3 separate regions of the Homo sapiens genome follow, and regions 2 and 3 are each linked to region 1. Evidence: fine-mapped expression QTL. A gene starts in region 1. Each other region holds a variant in brackets. All regions are shown on one strand. Distances are between the middles of the regions. Region 1 holds the start of PCED1A (PC-esterase domain containing 1A). Region 2 overlaps PTPRA (protein tyrosine phosphatase receptor type A). Region 3 overlaps PTPRA (protein tyrosine phosphatase receptor type A).

Evidence for each region. PIP is the estimated chance that this variant, and not a neighbour inherited with it, causes the effect.
Region 2: its variant is the best candidate, but not a certain one, in a credible set for the expression of PCED1A in whole blood (INTERVAL, PIP 0.82).
Region 3: its variant is the best candidate, but not a certain one, in a credible set for the expression of PCED1A in whole blood (TOPMed, PIP 0.76).

What each region holds. Positions count from the first base shown.
Region 1 is chr20:2,836,105-2,842,718 of GRCh38, reverse strand. It overlaps PCED1A (PC-esterase domain containing 1A), which reads left to right and starts at 2,064. Exons shown (of 8, transcript NM_022760.6): 1 at 2,064-2,508; 2 at 2,786-2,930; 3 at 3,448-3,527; 4 at 3,637-3,875; 5 at 3,973-4,123; 6 at 4,241-4,487; 7 at 6,405-6,614. The coding sequence starts at 2,807. VPS16 (VPS16 core subunit of CORVET and HOPS complexes) reads right to left here and starts at 1,974. Exons shown (of 24, transcript NM_022575.4): 1 at 1,892-1,974. The coding sequence starts at 1,944. RefSeq lists enhancers at 1,166-1,697, 2,231-2,762, 4,239-4,538.
Region 2 is chr20:3,028,134-3,034,747 of GRCh38, reverse strand. All of the region lies in intron 20 of PTPRA (protein tyrosine phosphatase receptor type A), which reads right to left. Among named protein-coding and RNA genes, the nearest start is that of GNRH2, 12 kb to the left of the region's middle. The variant G/AACAG (reference allele first, on the strand shown) is at 2,975.
Region 3 is chr20:2,892,379-2,898,992 of GRCh38, reverse strand. All of the region lies in intron 1 of PTPRA (protein tyrosine phosphatase receptor type A), which reads right to left. Among named protein-coding and RNA genes, the nearest start is that of PTPRA, 22 kb to the right of the region's middle. The variant G/C (reference allele first, on the strand shown) is at 3,540.

The DNA.
Region 1 (6,614 bases):
TGTCTATCTATATATAGATACATCTAGATGTATCTATATATATATAGATACATCTATATATCTATCTATATCTATCTATCTATAGATAGATATAGATAGATATATCTATATATAGACGGAGTCTCACTCTGTTGCCTGGACTAGAATGCAATGACGCTATCTTGGCTCACTGCAACCTCCGCCTCCCAGGTTCAAGCGATTCTCCTGCCTCAGCCTCCCAAGTAGCTGGGATTACAAGCACCTGCCATTATGCCTGGCTAATTTTTGTAGAGACAGGGTTTGACCATGTTGGTTAGGCTGGTCTCAAACTCCTGGCCTCAGGTGATTCACCCACCTTGGCCTCCCAAAGTGCTGGGATTACAGGCATGAGCCACTGCGCCTGGCCTAAAATAATATTTTTAATTTTTCAGAGGGAGTATGCTATGTTGCCCAGGCTGGAGTGCAGTGGTTATTCACAGGTTCTAACATCGGTCCCTACACCCTCAAACTTCTGGGCTCCAGTGATCCTCCTAACTCAGCCTCTCCAGTACCTGGGACTATAGGAACATGCCACAAAGCTCGGCCCAGTAAAATATTTTTAAAAAACTTTAATGGGCAATTATTACATAGCAAGCACTGTTCTAAATATGCACTGGTGATAAAGAGAAGCAAGAAACATGCTTTTGGCCGGGCTCAGTGGTTCACGCCTGTAATCCCAGTACTTTGGGAGGCCAAGGTGGATAGATTGCTTAAGGTCAGAAGTTCAAGACCAGCCTGGCCACCATGGTGAAACCTCACCTCTAGCAAAAAATACAAAAATTAGCCGGGCGTGGTGACAGGGGCCTGCAGTCTCAGCCACTCGGGAGGCTGAGGCAGGAGAATCCCTTGAACCCGGGAGGCGGAGGTTGCAGTGAGCCGAGTGCCCCTGCACTCCAGCCTGGGCAACAGAGGAAGACTCTGTCAAAAAAAAAAAAAATGCTTTCAGCCCTGAAGGAGCCTGGTTTAGCAGAAGAAACCTATACAAATGTCGCCTAAATATACAAATAGACCATACCTAAAAGACCCTAGCACTGGGCCCAGTGAGGCCCACAGGATTCTATTGGGGGAGAATCAGGCACAGTTCCAGAAAGAACCCTTGAACTACTAAGTCCTGAAGGATGCGCAAAATTCTTCAGTGAGATAAAGAGAGAAATGGCAGTATCCACAGAAACTGCAGACTGGTTAGGGCCTTGTAATTCTGCGCAGCTGGAACGCAAGATTTGGGTAGGAGAGCGGTAGATGAGGTTGGAGAGACAAACGGGCTGCCTTACAGATAGACGTTCCACGAGAAGTTCGTAGTTTTTCCTATTAGGGAAGCTATGGGAAAATCCTAATCTGGGTAACGATGTAACGGGTTTACACTTTAGAAAAATCCGTGGTTTAGGACTCTACAACTCCCATGGGCGGGCTGCCCTAACCCAGGGGTTCCCACTTCCGCTGTTCCGGGATTCACGGACGACTCGCCCCCTTTTCCCAGCCTTGGTCAGCACTGTTACCCCGCCCGCCGTGCGATCCCGCCCCCCTCGGAGCGCCCCTGTGGTCTGACTTCAGCAGCACTTTCCGGCAGGAGACTGGGCACTCGCTGTCACCCGCGAGCTGCCTCCCTCAGCGAGATCTGAGCATCTTTCCGGAGGCTAACAGACCTGGGCTTCGGGGTGACCACTGTGCTTGCCTCAGTTTCCTTTTCTGGAGCAGGGGAAGGCCCGGCTCCCTGCCCAAAGGCGGCTGTGCGCTAAGTGGCAGACGCTCGGGGAGAGCCGGCGCGGGGCGGACCCCAGCGCCAGTAGTGACAGGGGCGAACGCCGCCGGGAGACTCCAGCCGGCGGGCGAGCAGGGTAAGCCAGGCCGTGGGCGGGAGGGCGGGGCAGCTCACCGGTAAAAGGCAGAGTCCCCGAGTGGGTTCCAGTTCGCCGTGTAGCAGTCCATGGCTGGTGCAGACGGCAGCTGGGAAGCACCGAGGGGACACCCACCTAGAGCGGGCTCCAGGCCGGCACTTCCGCTTCCGCCCGTCCGGGTCACGTGGCGAGGCCGCCGCCGCGGCCATCACCACTGTGGGCAGCCTCACTTGGCTGCCGCCCCGAGACCCCAGCCCGTACCTGGGCTTCGCGCCCGCCAAGTGGGCCCAGCCCTGGCTCCTGCGCCCTGTGGCGGCCACCTCCATCGCCTTGCTTTCCCTTCGGGCACTGGGGGTCGCTCAGGGCGGGACATGGGTGAACGGAAGTGGAAGCTGTGAGCGTCGCAGCCCGAGGCGCCGAGGCCTGAGGCGCCGTCGGGGCCACAGCGACGCTCGCATGGAGAGCGCTGGGCGCTGGGCTGTGCACCGACGGCTAACCTGGACCCACGGTCTCTGCGGGGCGGGAGCTTTGCAGAACCGACTGGCCGACTGGGGCGCGGGAACATGAGGCTTGGCTAGGAGCCCGCTGCGGGCCAGGCGCGCGGTGCGCAGGCATACCCGGGTCGCGGGTGAACACCGCGGAGCCCCGGGACTTGGTAATTGGCGCGAGCGGGTGCGCGCATGCGCGGGACGGCGGCGGGCACGTGGCGAGGCGCAGGGCGGCGCCGCGCGGGAAGCTCCCCAGTGCCCTGGAGGCCTGCTGGCTGGACGACCCCCTGCCTCTGGTACCAAGTGTGACCAAGGCTGGCGCCACCATGGCTCTGCTGCCGTCACCTCCTCCCTTTAGCATTGAGCAGCCCCGGAGGGGCTAGCCCTGAGGCTGACCTGCCCAGAGTCCCCACCATCGCGCTGCTTAGTGGCCTCTCCCTGCAGCCTGTCGTTGCTGGTGGCGGCATGGTCTTCTGTCTGTCGAGCGAGGAGCCGCGCCGCCCGCTGCGAAGCGACATGGTCCACTTCCAGGCCTCGGAAGTCCAGCAGCTGCTACACAACAAGTTCGTGGTCATCTTGGGGGACTCCAGTGAGTGCCTCTTCTAGGGTGACGCTTCCAGTCCCACACCTTGCAGCCCGTTCAGTGTGTCTGGACCATTTGTTTCCATCTCACATCTCTTGTCTGTCTTCTGGTCTGTTCCGTCCAGTAGGTTTTCTCTTTTTATGTCCCACACATCTTCCACAGGAGTCCTGACAGGTGTAATAACCTGTGCACTTTTTAGCCCATCCTTGCTCAGCATTTCTCGCCCTGACAGCTCCCCATAATTTCCATCACGAAAGCGTTGCATTGTGTAGTGTGTCTCCTGGGTGACTTGGCCGACTTAATTTCTGCCAGGTGATCTTGGGTCACTGTATACTGCTGGCCAGGAGGCACACAGAACAGAGGCAATGCCAGGACTTTTTAACCTCATCTTTTCTCCTGCGTCTAAGTCAACCACAGAGCTGGTGTCGGGCACCTCAGCCCTGGGAAAATGGGGTCCTGGACTTGGAAGGAGCTGGGGCAGGCTGAGGTCTGCCTCAGCCTTGGGATCTCTGTCTCCTCCCAGTTCAGAGGGCTGTGTACAAGGACCTGGTGCTCTTGCTCCAGAAAGACTCACTGCTCACAGCTGCCCAGCTGAAAGCCAAGGTGAGGGAAGCTTGGTGGCCATGTCAGTGGTGGGTGGGCACAGACCCTGGCCTGGCAGGGTTCTCCTCCCTGGCATGGGTCTGACCAGTAGGGTGGGGGGGGTGGGTAGGGGGAGCTGAGCTTTGAACAGGACCAGCTGGTGGCTGGGGGCCAGCTGGGCGAGCTGCACAACGGGACACAGTATCGTGAGGTCCGCCAGTTCTGCTCGGGCTCTGGCCACCACCTTGTGCGCTTCTACTTCCTCACTCGTGTTTACTCCGAGTACCTTGAGGATGTTCTGGAAGAGCTGACATATGGACCTGCCCCGGACCTGGTGATCATCAACTCCTGCCTCTGGGATCTCTCCAGGTTGGGGCGAGGGAAAGGGGAATACTGGTTGGGGCTGGAAGTACGGCTGAGGCAGTCCACCCTTGTGCTCTTGCCCACCCTGTGTGTTATCCAACAGATATGGTCGCTGCTCAATGGAGAGCTACCGGGAGAACCTGGAGCGGGTGTTTGTGCGCATGGACCAAGTATTGCCAGACTCCTGCCTGCTGGTGTGGAACATGGCGATGCCCCTCGGGGAACGTATCACTGGGGGTTTCCTCCTGCCAGAGGCAAGTGACTGAGGCCCATCAGGACAAGAGATGGGATAGCAGACTGGTAGATAGGACACCCTGCTTTCAGACCCTGCTGCGTTCTGTGGCTCTTAGAGGCTGCACTTTCTCACTTAGCTCCAGCCCCTGGCAGGCTCCCTGCGGCGGGATGTGGTTGAAGGGAACTTCTACAGTGCTACGCTGGCCGGGGACCACTGCTTTGATGTCCTAGACCTCCACTTTCACTTCCGGCATGCAGTACAGCACCGTCATCGGGATGGTGTCCACTGGGACCAGCATGCACACCGCCACCTCTCACACCTGCTTCTGACCCATGTGGCTGACGCCTGGGGCGTGGAGCTGCCCAAGCGTGGCTATCCCCCTGGTGAGCCCTACCATAAGTGGGGGGGTAGTGATGCACTGGGGCCCTCAGAGGACAGGGCTCAGAAACAGAATGGGACACAGCCACTCAAGGGAAGTAGAGGTCCCTTGAAGGACTCCTGTGGCTTCTGCATGCACCTTCCTCAACCCCTGAGGAGGGTTAGATCATCGGAGCAATATTCTTGTCCAAGTTCCAGTTTTCTACAGTCTGGCTGTGTAGTCATTTCTGTGTGCTTGAAGGAGCTTGTACAAGTATTGACCACATAAGGCAGCATGTTGCAAGGGTCCTACCCAACAGATTAACAGGAAAGAAATGGGGCATGGGTGTGAGGAGTGGAAAGACAGGGAGGAAGGGCCATCCAGGCAGTGTGGCAGAAGCAAAGAAGCCCACAGCTGGGGGGTGGGGGTACAGTCAACTGGCAGGGTGTGGAACAGGGATGTTGCATCGGGAAGGCCAGCCTTATGGACTTGGGCTCAATGGACAGTGTTCCATAGGCTTCTTAGTTCAGCCTCAGAGTCCCACTGTGACTGGTGCAGCTTGGTGTAGCTCTCCTCGGGCCCCATCTCTGGGCCTTTGGTGGAGGCTTCTGAGGGCCCCACTCCCCCTTGTTTTGAGGCACTGCTCCCCATCACATCTCAACTGTAACACTCTGCTGCAGAACCTCTGTTTCCATGTCAACACCCTAGTCCCTGCATGCACACAAAGAGGGCACCATGGCTGATTGTCTCCATGGCTGCTTCTCCCCTGCATCGTGTCCTTAAAGGGCAAGTTTCCTGCTGCACTTGTTGACGACTCACCCCTTTCAGCCCCAGTGTCTAGCACAATTTCCCTGTACACAGTATCAACAGAATTGTATTTGTTGAATGGGAGGCACGAGTCATGTTAGAAGGCCGATTATGGCAGCACAAGAGGATGTGGGGGCACAGAGAGTCCAGGAATATCATAGAGACAGACCTGTAACACTTGGTAGCCAGGAGTTGGAGCATCAGGGAGGTGAATACAGATTTTGGTTAAACATCCCCATTTTCTTGTTTAGATGTAATAATTGATCCCCAGCAAATGATGGGATGCCCTGAAGGTTGTAAGGCTAGTTTTGATGGCTTAGGCCTTTGAAATCCAATTTGGAGCTACAGAAGTTAGGGCCATGAAAAGGGAGAGTTGATTTGGGGTGGAAGGATGAGTTGGTGAGTTTGGTCACAGCAGATTGATTTGAGGTTCTTTGGAAATACAGAGTAGATTTGCAGTCATTGGTACCCAGCAGAGAGATTAAAACTGAGGGCACAGTGGCAGCTGTGAGGGAGACAGAACGATGCTCATGCTTTGGATTGGCAGGAAAGAGGGGCTATGGCGGAAACAAAAGGAGATGAGGGCAGGGGCACTTTTAGGAAGGACTGAGGCTGCTGGCAGTGTCACATGACTGTTGAGAAGAAGGGAATTTGTTAGCAAGTGGTTACATTTAGTAGGAAAAGTGTTGAGGGCATGGGTTTGGATTAAAGGAGGGAGTGAGCAATTGAGGAGGAAGTGGAAATTGGGCAAAACATTCCTTTTGGAAGTTTGGATGGTAAAAGGAAGTTGTTGGGGAAGGGAATAACAGGATCTTTATGTTTGGCTTATTTACTGGTCTATGGGGAGGAGGTGGGCGAGGAAAAAGCTAGATACAAGACCTGGGCAAACAAAGAAGGCTCTGGAGGGAAGTGTAGGTTAGAACAAAGGTAAGTCTGAGAGGTAAGAGAGAAGGAACACACTTTGGGCTTGGCCTGAAATGAGAGGGAATGAGGAAAACTGGGTAGAGGGCAAGGATGCTCCAGCCTGGTGGCTCTGCTCTCCAAGAGGAAGGAATAGAGCTTTAGAAGTGTGGATGGCCAGAGTTCAGGGCAGCCTGGCTCCCAAGCCTACCTAAAACAACCATCCCATTCCTAGACCCGTGGATTGAGGACTGGGCAGAGATGAATCATCCATTCCAGGGAAGCCATAGGCAGACCCCAGACTTCGGGGAGCACCTGGCCTTGCTCCCACCCCCACCTTCTTCTTTGCCTCCTCCCATGCCTTTTCCCTACCCGCTTCCTCAGCCCTCGCCACCTCCCCTCTTCCCACCCCTGCCCCAGGATACCCCTTTTTTCCCAGGCCAGC
Region 2 (6,614 bases), 190 kb before region 1:
GAAAAAAATTAAGTAGAAAAAGAAATTGTGAATAGTCTCACAGTCCAAATAAAATCATGATTATTAAAGTGTTGAATCAAGAACATGCCCTGGACTAGTGCTTTTCCACCCATGTTCTCTAGAAGCCCTGGGGATGCCTCAGGGATCGGTGCCCTGGGCCTCTCTTCAACCAGAACAGCCAAAAAAAAAAAAAAATTCTCATTAAGGCTCACCTCGATCAGGCATTATATTAGTTTTTATGGCACTGGTGGGTGGAATGGATTTTGCTACCACAGTGCCTTCTCAACACTGCTTTACACAGTGTCTCAGCTGGGATGAAGACTGGGCCTTTAAAACCATCAGAACCATAAGGTCCCCATGGGTGTGAGCCACAGTGTGTGTGTGCTGGAGGAATTGAGCATGATCTCTCAGACAGAAATACATATCAAGTCTAGGGACTAGGTATCAACACTAAGAGTCTCATTTTTTTTTTCTTTTTTGAGAGAGTCTTGCTCTGTCGCCCAGGCTGGAGTGCAGTGGCATGATCTTGACTTACTGCAGCCTCCGCCTCCCAGTTTCAAGTGATTCTCCCACCCCAGACTCCCAAGTAGCTGGGACTACAAGTGTGCGCCACCATGCCTAGCTAATTTTTGTATTTTTAGTAGAGACAGGGTTTCACCATGTCGGCCAGGCTGGTCTCAAACTCTTGACCTCAGGTGATCCACCTGCCTCAGCCTCCCAAAGTGGTAGGATTACACAGGCGTGAGCCACCACATCTGATCAAAAGTCTCTAAATTTTGTATACATGGGCGGATTTTCTCTCAAGATCTCTGGAAGACCAAAGAGGATTTTTTTTTTTTTTTTTTTTGAGATGGAGCTTCACTCTTATTGCCCACGCTGGAGTGCAATGGCGCGATCTTGGCTCACTGCAACCTCCGGCTCCCGGGTTCAAGTGATTCTCCTGCCTCAGCCTCCCCAGTAGCTGAGATTACAGGCATGCATCACCATGCCCGCTAATTTTGTATTTTTAGTAGAGACGGGGTTTCTCCATGTTGGTCAGGCTGGTCTCGAACTCCCGACCTCAGGTGATCCACCCGCCTCGGCCTCCCAAAGTGCTGGGATTACAGGCGTGAGCTGCCGCACCTGGCCTCAAACAGGATTTGTAAGACAAGGAGTGACAATGATTTATATTTTCAAAAGGACCAGCAGCTGCCATTTGAAAAACTAAAAGTGGGTTAGGATGAGAGCAGGAGGACCAGTTGCCAGGCCACTGCAGACGAGGCTGCGCATATGAGTCATGCCCACAGTCCCACGGGCAAGCAGTGAGAGACGAGGGCTTGTTCAGATGACAGCAGTTACGCTGGAGAAAAGTGGGGAGGCTCTGCCTGTATCAGGACTCAGTGGCAGACTGGATGTGAGGGGTGAGGAGAGGGGAGGAAGGAAGGTAACTCCCGGATTTTAGACATGAGCAACTGGGCAGAAGGTGGTACTATTTATTTAGATGGCTAAGAGTGGGGTGGACTGGTGTCGGGGGAAGGAGGAAATCAGGAGCCCACATTGGGAAGGGGGACAGGTGACTGGCCTAGAGACGCAGATTGAGGATCCCTGGCATATGGGTTGTACTTAAAGCCATAGGACTGGCTGAGATCCTGAAGGGCTAGTGTGTCAAAAGAAAACAGAGTGGGCTAGCGCCCGAGTCTAGTATACTCCAATGTTTTAGAGGAGGAGGTCACAAAGAAATAACAAAGGAGCTGCCAGGTTAGTGAGTGGGGTGATGCTACGGAAGTAAGTGTTCTGAGGAAGAGGAGGGAGGTACTGACTCTTTCAAATGCTGCTGTAAGGACAAAAAAAAAAAAATCAGAAAAGAGAAATGACCTTTGGATTTGGCAAGAGGACAGTCACTGGTGATCTTGACTAAAGCAGTCCCAGTGGGGCCAAGCCTGGAAGGAACAGAGCGAACAGAGAACTTGCAGGGAGAAAGCCAACTCTTTTTTTTTTTTTTTTGAGATGGAGTCTCACTCTGCCACCAGGCTGGAATGCAGTGGCGCGATCTTGGCTCATTGCAACCTTCAGCTCCCTGGTTCAAACGATTCTCCTGCCTCAGCCTCCCGAGTAGCTGGGATCACAGGCATGCACCATCGCGCCCAGCTAATTTTTGTATTTTTAGTAGAGATGGGGTTTTGCCATGTTGGCCAGGCTGGTCTCGATCTCCTGACTTTGTGATCCGCCCACCTTGGCCTCCCAAAGTGCTGGGATTACAGGCGTGAGCCACCGCGCCCGGCCGAAAGCCAACTCTTTAAAGGAGTTTTGCTGGGAAGGGGTGCAGAGAAATAGGATAGTAGGTGGAAGGGAAAGTGAGATTAGCAGATTTTTTGTTTTTAAAAGATAGGAAATGTAACATGTATAGGCTGATGAGAGTAGTGGTTAAAGAGGGGAACTGCTGATGGAGGTGGGAGAGAAGATGGTTATAGCAGCAACATCCCTGAGCAGGCAGGACGGAATGGGGCCAAGAGCACAGTGGACAGGTGGATTGAGAGATGCAGAAACCCTTTTCCACTGTAACAAGAGAGAATAGAGTTGGTACAGATTTGAAGAGGCTGGTTGTTTGGGGGTGGGAGGATGACAGTGTTCTTGTCTGATTTCTTGGAGAAGAATGAGGCCAGGTCACAAGCTAAGGTGTGAGTATGATGGGACAGGCAAGAGCAGATGCTGGAGGTTTCAGGAAGAAAAGAAAGAGCAATAGCATTGCTAGGTGGCACCAATTACCTCTATGAGATTTGTGGTCATGAGTTCAGTGTGAGAGCATTTGGCACTGTTTTGTGTTTTTGCCCAGTGATGTTTGCTATATCAGATAGAGGCATATAACTGGGTTTTACTAGAGAGTTTGCTATGAAAGTAAGAAAGCATGAGGGAATAAGGAAAGGTAATAATGACATACCACAAAAACTCAAATCAGAAAACTCAAACGCTCAAAAACAGAACTCAAAAACACACA[G/AACAG]AGTAAGGAGGAAGGTGAGGACATGTTCGGTGTGACTGATGTTGAGAAAGTGGAGGCATCAATAACTCTAAGGACTTGATGAAGACAAAAATGACTGGAATAAAAGAGAATACTGAGGTGGGAGGAAGGAGGCAGTAAACAGGGCGGATGCCTTGTTGAGATTCCAAGGGCAGTGCAGATACAGGGCAGATGGTGACTTGACCATGGGATCAGGTGGCTGAGGAAGCTGAGGAATAGAAAGATTGAGGATAGATGGATCATCCACATGGTGACTGATGCCTCCAAAAGCAGAGTCAGGAACAGGGGCTCAAAAGGAGCAGTAAGCCAGGTGTTAAAGTCATCAGTGGGTGAGGGACAGAAGATGGGGAATGGGGATTCAAGACCAGTAGAAGAAAAGCTGGGGACTGGAGTTTCATCTCAGATTTGTGTGTTCACGTTACGGCCTCTAGATAATAGCATCTTAAAGAAGTGAAACAGGGAAGGTTTTCTGTCTTTTCTCCTACTTTGTCTTTCCACCAGATAGCATGAAGTCTCTTATGTCTTATGTCTCTTATGAGGTCTAAGGCGGACATGGTGATGGGGACACACAGCTTTGTGAAGACTAATGCTATCAGGTTTCACTATGCTTTAGAGAAGCAGGATGAGGCCTAGGGTTGGGCTAGGCCTAGGGTTGACCCAGCATGGGAGTTCCTGGCACTGCTCTGTCTGCCCAGGCTGATGATGGTCCAAGCTGCAGCTGCTGAGGGAACCCAGGCATCCTGGTGGACCCTTTTGATTAAAATAGAGCAGAAGGAGGCCAGGCGCAATGGCTCATGCCTGTAATCTTAGCACTCTGGGAGGCTAAGGCGGGCGGATCACTTGGGGTCAGGAGTTTGAGACCAGCATGGCCAACATGACGAAACCCTGTCTCTACTATGGAAATTAGCTGGGCATGGTAGTGCATGCCTGTAATCCCAGCTACTCGGGAGGCTGAGGTGGGAGAATCACTTGAACCCTGGAGGTGGAGGTTGCAGCGAGCTGAGATTGTGCCACTGCACTCCAGTCTGGTGGACAGAGTGAGACTCCATCTCAAAAAAAAAAAAAAAAAAAAAAAAAAAGCAGAGGGAGATAATTAAAAATTTTTAATTCCTTCGAGATTTTAATTTGTAAGTACAGAATTTATATTATGGGATCGAATTTTTTTCTCTGGGAACTTAATATTGTAGGTGAGGATGGTAGTGTCACTGTATAAGTGTAGGCACCTTTCATTGCATCATTTAGGCTTAGTGCGTTAATTACTTCTGGGAGCTACACTTGACAACATGAATGGAACAGAAAGTGAACTTGGGGGCCAGTGAGGCCTTGTAAAGAACATCACTAACATCCTGTTCCAATCCACTCAGAAGCTTTTGAGGGCAAGCACTACTGTCTGCTTCACTGGCCTAGGAAGACAGAGCATAAGCTACAGTGGAAGGCAGAGGGAGAGGCCTCACTCAACAGGCAGCAGAATTTGTGTGCGCACGACTCTTCTCCCCACCGCCACACACATGAAATGCTTCCTGCCCCCTGCCCTTTACTCTCACTAGGTCCTTTTCAAGGATGGAAGAGCCTGCATCTGACTGGACAGAGGCGGAGATGTTCACTGGGCCACATTTTATCACAGGGCAGTGGGCCGAGATGGTCCTTGTGCTCGTGGTTCCAGCTCTTCGGCCTGCTCTTTGGTCCTGCCCATCACAGATCTGAAGGGCAGGGGTGCAGAAGGAACCACAGGTAGGGCCCTGGTCTGATCTGCAGGTTCCATCACGACTGATCAGAGACGGCAGGAACAGGCACCTAGCTCCTGAGAACACAGTGGCTCATTTCCTAAACAGCTTTTGTTACTCAGGTGTGTGCTTCCTTGAGTGCAAAGCCAAGCACCTTAACCGAACCTCCCACCTCATCAGTATTGTTATTAATGATGATGAAGACACTGGGCGCAGTGGCTCACGCCTGTAATCCCAGCACTTTGGGAGGCTGAGTCAGGCAGATAACCTGAGGTCAGGAGTTTGAGACAAGCCTGGCCAACATGGTGAAACCCCGTGCCTACAAAAATTAGCCAGGCATGATGGTGGGTGTCTTTAATCCCAGTTACTAGGGAGGCTGTGGCAGGAGAATTGCCAGAACCTGGGAGGCAGAGGTTGCAATGAGCCCATATTGTGCCACTGCACTCCAGCCTGGGTGACAGAGACTCCGTCTCAAAAAAAAAAAAAAAAAAGATGATGAAGACCTACAAAGTATGTCTGTTGATTAGGTACATGATACAAGTCTAGGAAGAATAGCTAATGAGTTAAATGACTGATCAAAATTGAAAAAAATGCCGGGCAAGGTGGTTCAAACCTGTAATCCTAGCACTTTGGGTCAACCAGGTGGGTGGATCAATTGAGCCCAGGAGTTCAAGACCAGCCTGGGCAACATGGTGAAACCCTGTCTCTACAAAAAAATACAAAAACTAGCTGGGCATGGTGGCACGTGCCTTTAGTCCTAGCTACTTGGAGGGCTATGTGGGAGGATCACTTGAACCTGGGAGGTTGAGGCTGCAGTGAGCCAAGATCGTGCCACTGCACTCCAGCCTGGGTGACAAAGTGAGACCCTCTCTCAAACAAACAAACAAACAAACAAAACCAAAAAAAAAAAAAAAATCCTGATGTAATGAAACATCAGGGTGAGAAAATATGTGTAAAGCCTTGTACCAAAGTTAACACAAGTACAGATGGGGAACAACTAGTGACTTGAGACAACTAATGTAAAACATACTTTGTATTTTAAATGTTTGACTATAAATTCAATGAGTCATGAGTGGGTGCCATCCTTAATTCCTCCTCACTTCACCCTTTCTGGGACAGCACCCTCTCACCACCCGAGTCCAGGCCACCAGCATTACTGCCACAGCTTTCGCATTTCTAATGAGTCCTTCTCACTGCTGCCAGAGGGATTTTTTAAAAAACACAAATGGGATGTTGTCAAGGGCTCTTCAATTGCTTTAGGAAGACCAAACTCTTCACTGTGGCTTAGAAGGAATTTTCTCACCAGGCCTTGCTAGCTTCTCTCCAGGCCCATTCTCTAGATTCTCATCCCTGCTAAGTGACACCCCAGACATAGTGAACCGCTCATTTGCTGCAATGTGCAACCTCAACAGAAATAATTTTTAAAAGAATAAGCATTGTCAGAACACAGACTGGGTCCCCCCATAATGTGGGGGGTGAGGGAGATATCCCTGAGATTGAATGTGCTTAGTAGAGGCTGTATGATTCTGACTCAGGAACAATATTAGGAGGTTTCCTATACTGAGAGGAAGTTGACCTAGGGGACTGCTAGTGTCCCTTTTTAGTATGAGTTTCCGGACAGCTCTGCTTTTTAATAGACCTGAGGGCTTTTTTCTTTAAAAGATTTCCTTATTACTGAATATTAGACTGTAAGTTTCTTGTTTGTATAATTTCTCAAATTCTACTGCTTTATTTTATGTAGTCAGCAATGAGGCAATCCCTTCTTAGGGACACTCATATTGGGTCCACCTCAGAACCTTGACCTATCTGCCCTGCCTGGGGCACTGGGAAGGAGAGGGTGCCCCCCCCGCCTGGGGCACTGTGCAAAGGCTAGGCTAGGGGGACTGTATTCAGGAGAA
Region 3 (6,614 bases), 56 kb before region 1:
ACATATCTAGTAGTGCACATATTTTATTTTCTAAGTACATTCACTAATAAAAGGAACCAGGGTTCCCTGATAAAATTATTGATTCCACGACTGAGATAACAAAAGTAAAGATGAGCCCAGAAATTTTTTTTTTTTGAGACGGAGTCTCGCCCTGTCATCCAGGCTGGAGTGCAGTGGCGCAATCTCAGCTCACTGCAACCTCCGCCTCCCGGGTTCAAGCAATTCTCCTGCCTCAGCCTCCCTAGCAGCTGGGACTACAGGTGTGTGCCACTATGCCCGGCTAATTTTTATATTTTTAGTAGAGACAAGGTTTCACTATGTTGGCCAGGCTGGTCTCGAACTCCAGACCTCAGGTGACCCACCAGCCTCGGCCTCCCAGAGTGCTAGGATTATAGGCGTGAGCCACCTCGCCCAGCCCACAGAAAATCTTATTATTCCAAAAAGTAAGAAAAAAAGTGATCAAAGAATGATGGGGACATGACCAGGCGTGGTGGCTCATGCCTATAATCTCAGCACTTTGGGAAGCCAAGGCGGGCGGATCACCTGAGGTCAGGAGTTCGAGACCAGCCTGACCAACATGGTGAAATCCTGTCTCCACTAAAAATAGAAAAATTGCCAGGCGCGGTGGCTCACGCCTGTAATCCCAGCACTTTGGGAGGCCGAGGTGGGCGGATCACAAGGTCAGGAGATCGAGACCATCCTGGCTAACACAGTGAAACCCCGTCTCTACTAAAAATACAAAAAAATTAGCCGGGCATGGTGGCGCATGCCTGGAGGCTGAGACAGGAGAATGGCGTGAACCCGAGAGGCGGAGCTTGCAGTGAGCCGAGATCGCGCCACTGCACTCCAGCCTGGGCGACGGAGCAAGACTCCGTCTCAAAAAATAAAAAAAATAAAAACAAAAATAGAAAAATTAGCCAGGTGTGGTGGCAGGTGCCTACAATCCCAGCTACTTGGGTGGCTGAGGCAGGAGGATCGCTTGAACCTGGGAGGTGGAGGTTGCAGTGAACAAAGAGCACGCCATTGCACCCCAGCCTGGGCAACAAGAGCAAAACTCTGTCTCAAAAAAAAAAAAAAAAAAAAAAAGAATGATGAGGACATGGAAAAAGGACACAGGAGCCAGCCTGAAAGGGTTCCCACTGGCCAAATTTGGGACAATTTGAATATCAAAAAATACATGAAAAAGGAACAAAATAAGAATCAATGAGGCTGTGCTCATATGTTTAAAAGATTTTTAAACAAACAAAAACAAAGACAAAAACCAGAGAGAGAAAGCTTTTCCTTAGAGTGAAATAGCAAGTGATTGGCTGGGCACGGTGGCTCAAGCCTGTGATCCCAGCACTTTGGGAGGCCAAGGTGGGCAGATCATCTGAGGTCAAGAGTTCAAGACCAGCCTAGCCAACATGGTGAAACCCCATCTCAACTAAAAATACAAAAATTAGTAGGGCATGATGGCGGGTGCCTGTAACCCCAGCTACTTGGGAGGGTGAGGTGGCAGAATCACGTGAACCTGGGAGGCAGAGGTTGCAGTGAGACGAGATCACGCCATTGCACTCCAGCCTGGGTGACAAAGCGAGACTCCGTCTCAAAAAAAAAAAAAAAAAAAAAGAAATGCCAAGTGATGAATTCAGAAGAAATAATGAAATTTTTTAAATTTACCATCTAGCAACCACTATAATAACTGATTCAGGCACAAATCACCAATGGATGGTAAAACTAGCAAGCAAAAATTTGATGAGAAATAAGCTATTTATATAGTCTCAAAGCATCACCCCACAAAATGCATTATTACTTACTAACCAGTAAGTATGAAATACCTCTAAACTAATTTTACAAAAACTTGCCAGCCAACATCTTAACCAAGTGGTAAAATTAAACATAACCAGTAATTGGACAAATTGACATGAACCTCTTGATACGATGCAGTGAGAAGAACATAATATCGTGTCTTTGGTATTCCTGCCACAAATGCATAACCTAAATCTATTCAAAAGGAAACATCAGACTAACCCAAATTGTGGGACTTGCTACAAAATAATTCTCTACTCTTCAAAAATATTAGGATCACTGAAAATAAGGAAAGACTGAGAACTATTCTAGATTAAAAGAGACTGAACAGACATGACAACTAAACGCAAGGCATAATCCTGAATGGTCCCTGAATCAGAAATAAGTGAAGGGGAAAGGGAAGTTTTTCTGCTTTTGTTTTCTTGAGGGAATTTTGTTGGTTTCTGTTGTTTTGTTTTTGCTATAAAAGACATAATTGGAAGATCAGTGAAATTTGAGTAGGGTCTGTGAATCAGATGGCAGTATTATATCAATATTTATTTCCTGATTTTATAGGAGAGTATCCTTGTTTTCAGGAAACACACCCTGATTTATGGGTAATACAGCATTATGTTTGCAACTTATTTCTCAAATGATTCAGAAAAATTACATAGATGGGTGAAGTGAGAAAGAGAAGACGCAATTGTACAACATTAACAACCTGTGGAATCTGGGTAAACTAGGCCAAATGGCAAATAAATACCAACAATTTCCAAAGGACTGAAAGTGCATGTAGGCCGTATTCTTTGCGTGTGTGTGTTTTCGTTTGTTTTTTGTTTTTGTTTTTGAGACGGAGTCTCCCTCTGTTGCACAGGCTGGATTGCAGTGGCACTATCTCGGCTCACTGCAACCTCCACCTCCCGGGTTCAAGCGATTCTCCTGCCTCAGCCTCCCTAGTAGCTGGGATTACAGGCACCCACCACCATGCCCGGCTAAATTTTTTTTGTATTTTTAGTAGAGACAGGGTTTCACCATGTTGGCCAGGCTGGTCTTGAACTCATGACCTCAAGTGATCCCCCTGCCTCAGCCTCCCAAAGTGCTGGGATTACAGGTGTGAGCCACCGTGCCCAGCCTATAGACCATATTCTTTAACCACAATGTATAATCTATAAATCCGTTACAAAAAGATAACTAGAAAAAACCTATTTGAAAATAAGAGACACTTATAAATACATACAGATCAAAGAAAAAAACAGAATGAAAATCAGAAAATAGCCTGATCTCTTATTGAAAAAACTGAACCAAAATATCGGTAATTTGACTCCATCAACACATAACATAAAAAAGACATTGTACATCATGATCAAGTTGTGCTGAACATTAAAAATTGGTTAATAAGCCGGGTGCGGTAGCTCACACCTGTAATCCCAGCACTTTGGAAGGCCAAGGCAGGTGGATCACTTGAGGCAGGAGTTCGAGAACAGCCTGGCCAAGATGGGGAAACCCCATCTCCACTAAAACTTCAAAAATTAGCCAGACTAATTCCAGGTGTTTGGTGGTGCACATCTGTAATCCCAGCTACTTGGGAGGCTGAGGCACGAGAATTGCTTGAACGCAGGAGGCTAAGTTTGCAGTGAGCCAGGATCGTGCCATTGCACTCCAGCCTGGGTGACAGAGCAACACTCTGTCTCAAAAAAAATAAAATAAAATAAAATACAGTTATCAATACTACAGTTGTCATGACAATCTTAAAATGAGGAAAATCAATCCCT[G/C]ATCTGGAAGAGTTCAGGAGCCTTCAGCAATTACGTGATATTTCAGCTGGGTCTAAAAGAATATGTAGTAGGCTGGGTGTGGTGGCTCACACCTGTAATCCCAGCACTTATGCACTTTGGGAGGCTGAGGTGGGTGGATCACTTGAGGTCAGGAGTTCTAGACCAGCCTGGCCAATATGGTGAAGCCCCATCTCTACCAAAAATACAAAAATTAGCTGGGTGTGGTGACGCATGCCTGTAGTCCCAACTACTCAGGAGGCTGAGGCACGAGAATCACTTGAACCTGGGAGGCAGAGGTTGCAGTGAGCCAAGATTATACCACTGCACTCCAGCCTGCTGACAGATCAAGACTCTGTCTAAAATAAATAAATAAATAAATAACAAGTAATAGTATAGTTATTTAGGCTTTTGTTTAATGAATTCAGTTTCAAAGAGAAAGACAAACTACTTTTTTTTTTTTTTTTTGGGTGAAGGAGTCTCGCTCTGTCGCCCAGGCTGGAGTGCAGTGACGTGATCTCTGCTCACTGCAAGCTCCGCCTCCCGGGTTCACCCCATTCTCCTGTCTCAGCCTCCCGAGTAGCTGGGACTACAGGCGCCCGTCACCACGCCTGGCCAATTTATTTGTATTTTTAGTAGAGACGGGGTTTCACCGTGTTAGCCAAGATGGTCTTGATCTCCTGACCTCGTGATCCACCCGCCTCAGCCTCCCAAAGTGCTGGGATTACAGGCATGAGCCACCAGGCCTGGCTCTCAAACTAAATCTTATACGTACAATCTTTGACAGTCCTTTCACAGTTAAAGTGAAGATCACAAACTGGTAGCACAGTGGGCTAAAAAAAAAAAAATTGGCCAGCACAGTGGCTCATGCCTATAATTCTAGCACCTTGGGAGGCCAAGGCTGGAAGATCACTTGAGCCCGGGAGTTCAAGACCAGCTCAAGCAACACAGCAAGACTCCATCTCTAAAAAAACACAAAAAAACTGAAGTTGAACTCATTTAGACCAGCCTTGGAAACTCCAGTGTGGCACAGGACCCAACAGATTTACTTCTCTCATTCACACTGACTACATAGCCTTGAAAAACGTATTTGGGTTTGGAACCCCTGACTCACTTAATGCCAAAAATAAGCAGGATTATGGGGAGGAGAAGAGAAGGAAGAGGCATTTTCAAAACCTGCTGAGTTTTGAGGGCATTATAGAGGCTGAAAGTTTCTGGTTTTAATGTATTCTCCAGTTTTAAAATCGAAAAGAAAATCTGCAAAACTGGAAGACAAACACTGAACCAAACATTTCTGTATCAATAAACCTCATATAAAATTATTCTGCTGTTTGATTATATAACTATTATGTTCTATGGCAACCTACTGATGAAATACGGGAATACCAAAAATAATTAACTACTTTTTTCCATGTCATTATCTCCACCATATTAAAAAAAACTTTCTTGAAAAAGATGCTATTGTTATTTTAATTACTCACATGAGACTATTTCAAATTCTTAACTTTAGTTCTAGTAGAATGCTTATATATTTAATATCTGGTATAAATATTAATTATATAGTATAGTCTACTGTATATATATATATCAAAATCTTTGTAGGCAATATATCTGCAAGAAATAAGACACATCTAGAATAGACACACGTAATCTTCAAAAGCAGTGTGTACCATGCTTTTACATACTCTTTGGTCACTGGGTTAGAAGGTCATGTGCCAAGAAGGAAATGGTTCTGGGCTGTCCTTCAAAAGGCAGAGTGAAAGATTTCCCAAGTAACATGAAGATTTTCATGAGCCATGGATAAGCAACAATAAATAACCAGCTGACAATAAAAACAGATCCATATACCATTTTGGGGATGAAAATATAGCTAAGGATTAAATGTGATTAAATATATGATATATATGATATACCATATATACATGATGTATCATATAGCTACATAATATATTAAGTACAGCTAAGATTAAATATTTCTAATCTAAACTGTCATCTAAATGTAAGAAATCTCCAGCTGTCTTAAATGTCCAGTTGATGTGCATAACTCCATCTGCCAGCTATGCTATCTGAGGGACACATGGTATTCTTGCTGGAGTCATGTAGTTGATTATACTTTATACTCAGGTCATGTCGTCTCATTTAAAGGGAATACCAGTTCACTCTACAAAGCTATCAACTGTAATCCATAAGTGTAAGATCTTTAGTATGGTTCTATTGGAGTAAATCTCTCATTCCTACTACAAACCAGGCACTGCATTAGCAGCTGGAGATATAAAACTGCAAAACAAACAAGTCCCATAAATCCCTGCCCTCAAAGAGCACCCAGTTTAATTGAGAAACAAACTAATACAACTTTGACATTCAAAGAAATGTTCACAAAAACCAAACCTTTCAAGAGCCGTTGGATACCATTATGATTTATTATACAGAATACAATTAAGACAGAATTGACAGTGAAATTCCTTCAAATCTTCATAAATGTATAAAAACAGAATTAATGCTGGCTTCCTTCTGAATACCATTTTTCACACAGAAAGTCTTAATCCCTTCAGGAGAGCTGTGGCCTATCTAAAGCAGAAAATAAAGACAGAATTAGATGCTAAGTGAGGCTTGGCTCACTGAACAGCTAAACCGAACTTAGTTCTGCTGCCACTAAACTCAACTGGGTAAATAAAGATGCTCCTTGCCCTACAATGGGGCTATATTCCAATATACCCACCATAAACTGAAAATATCGTTTAAGTAGGAAATGCATTTAACACACTTTACCTACCGAATGCCATAGTTAGCCTAGCCTACCTTAAATGTGTTCAGAACACTCACATTAGCATACAGTTGAGCAGAATCACCTGGCAACACAGTACACCATGGAGTATACTCATTTACCCTCCTGATCACATGGCTGACTGGGAGGTGTGGGTCAATGCTTCTGCCCAGCACCATGAGAAATTGTCACACTGCATATCACTAGCCTGGGAAAAGATCAAATTTCAAAATTGGAAGTACAATTTCTACTGAATACGTATATCACACCAGCTTTCCCACCATCATAGTATAAAAATCATAAGTTGAACCATC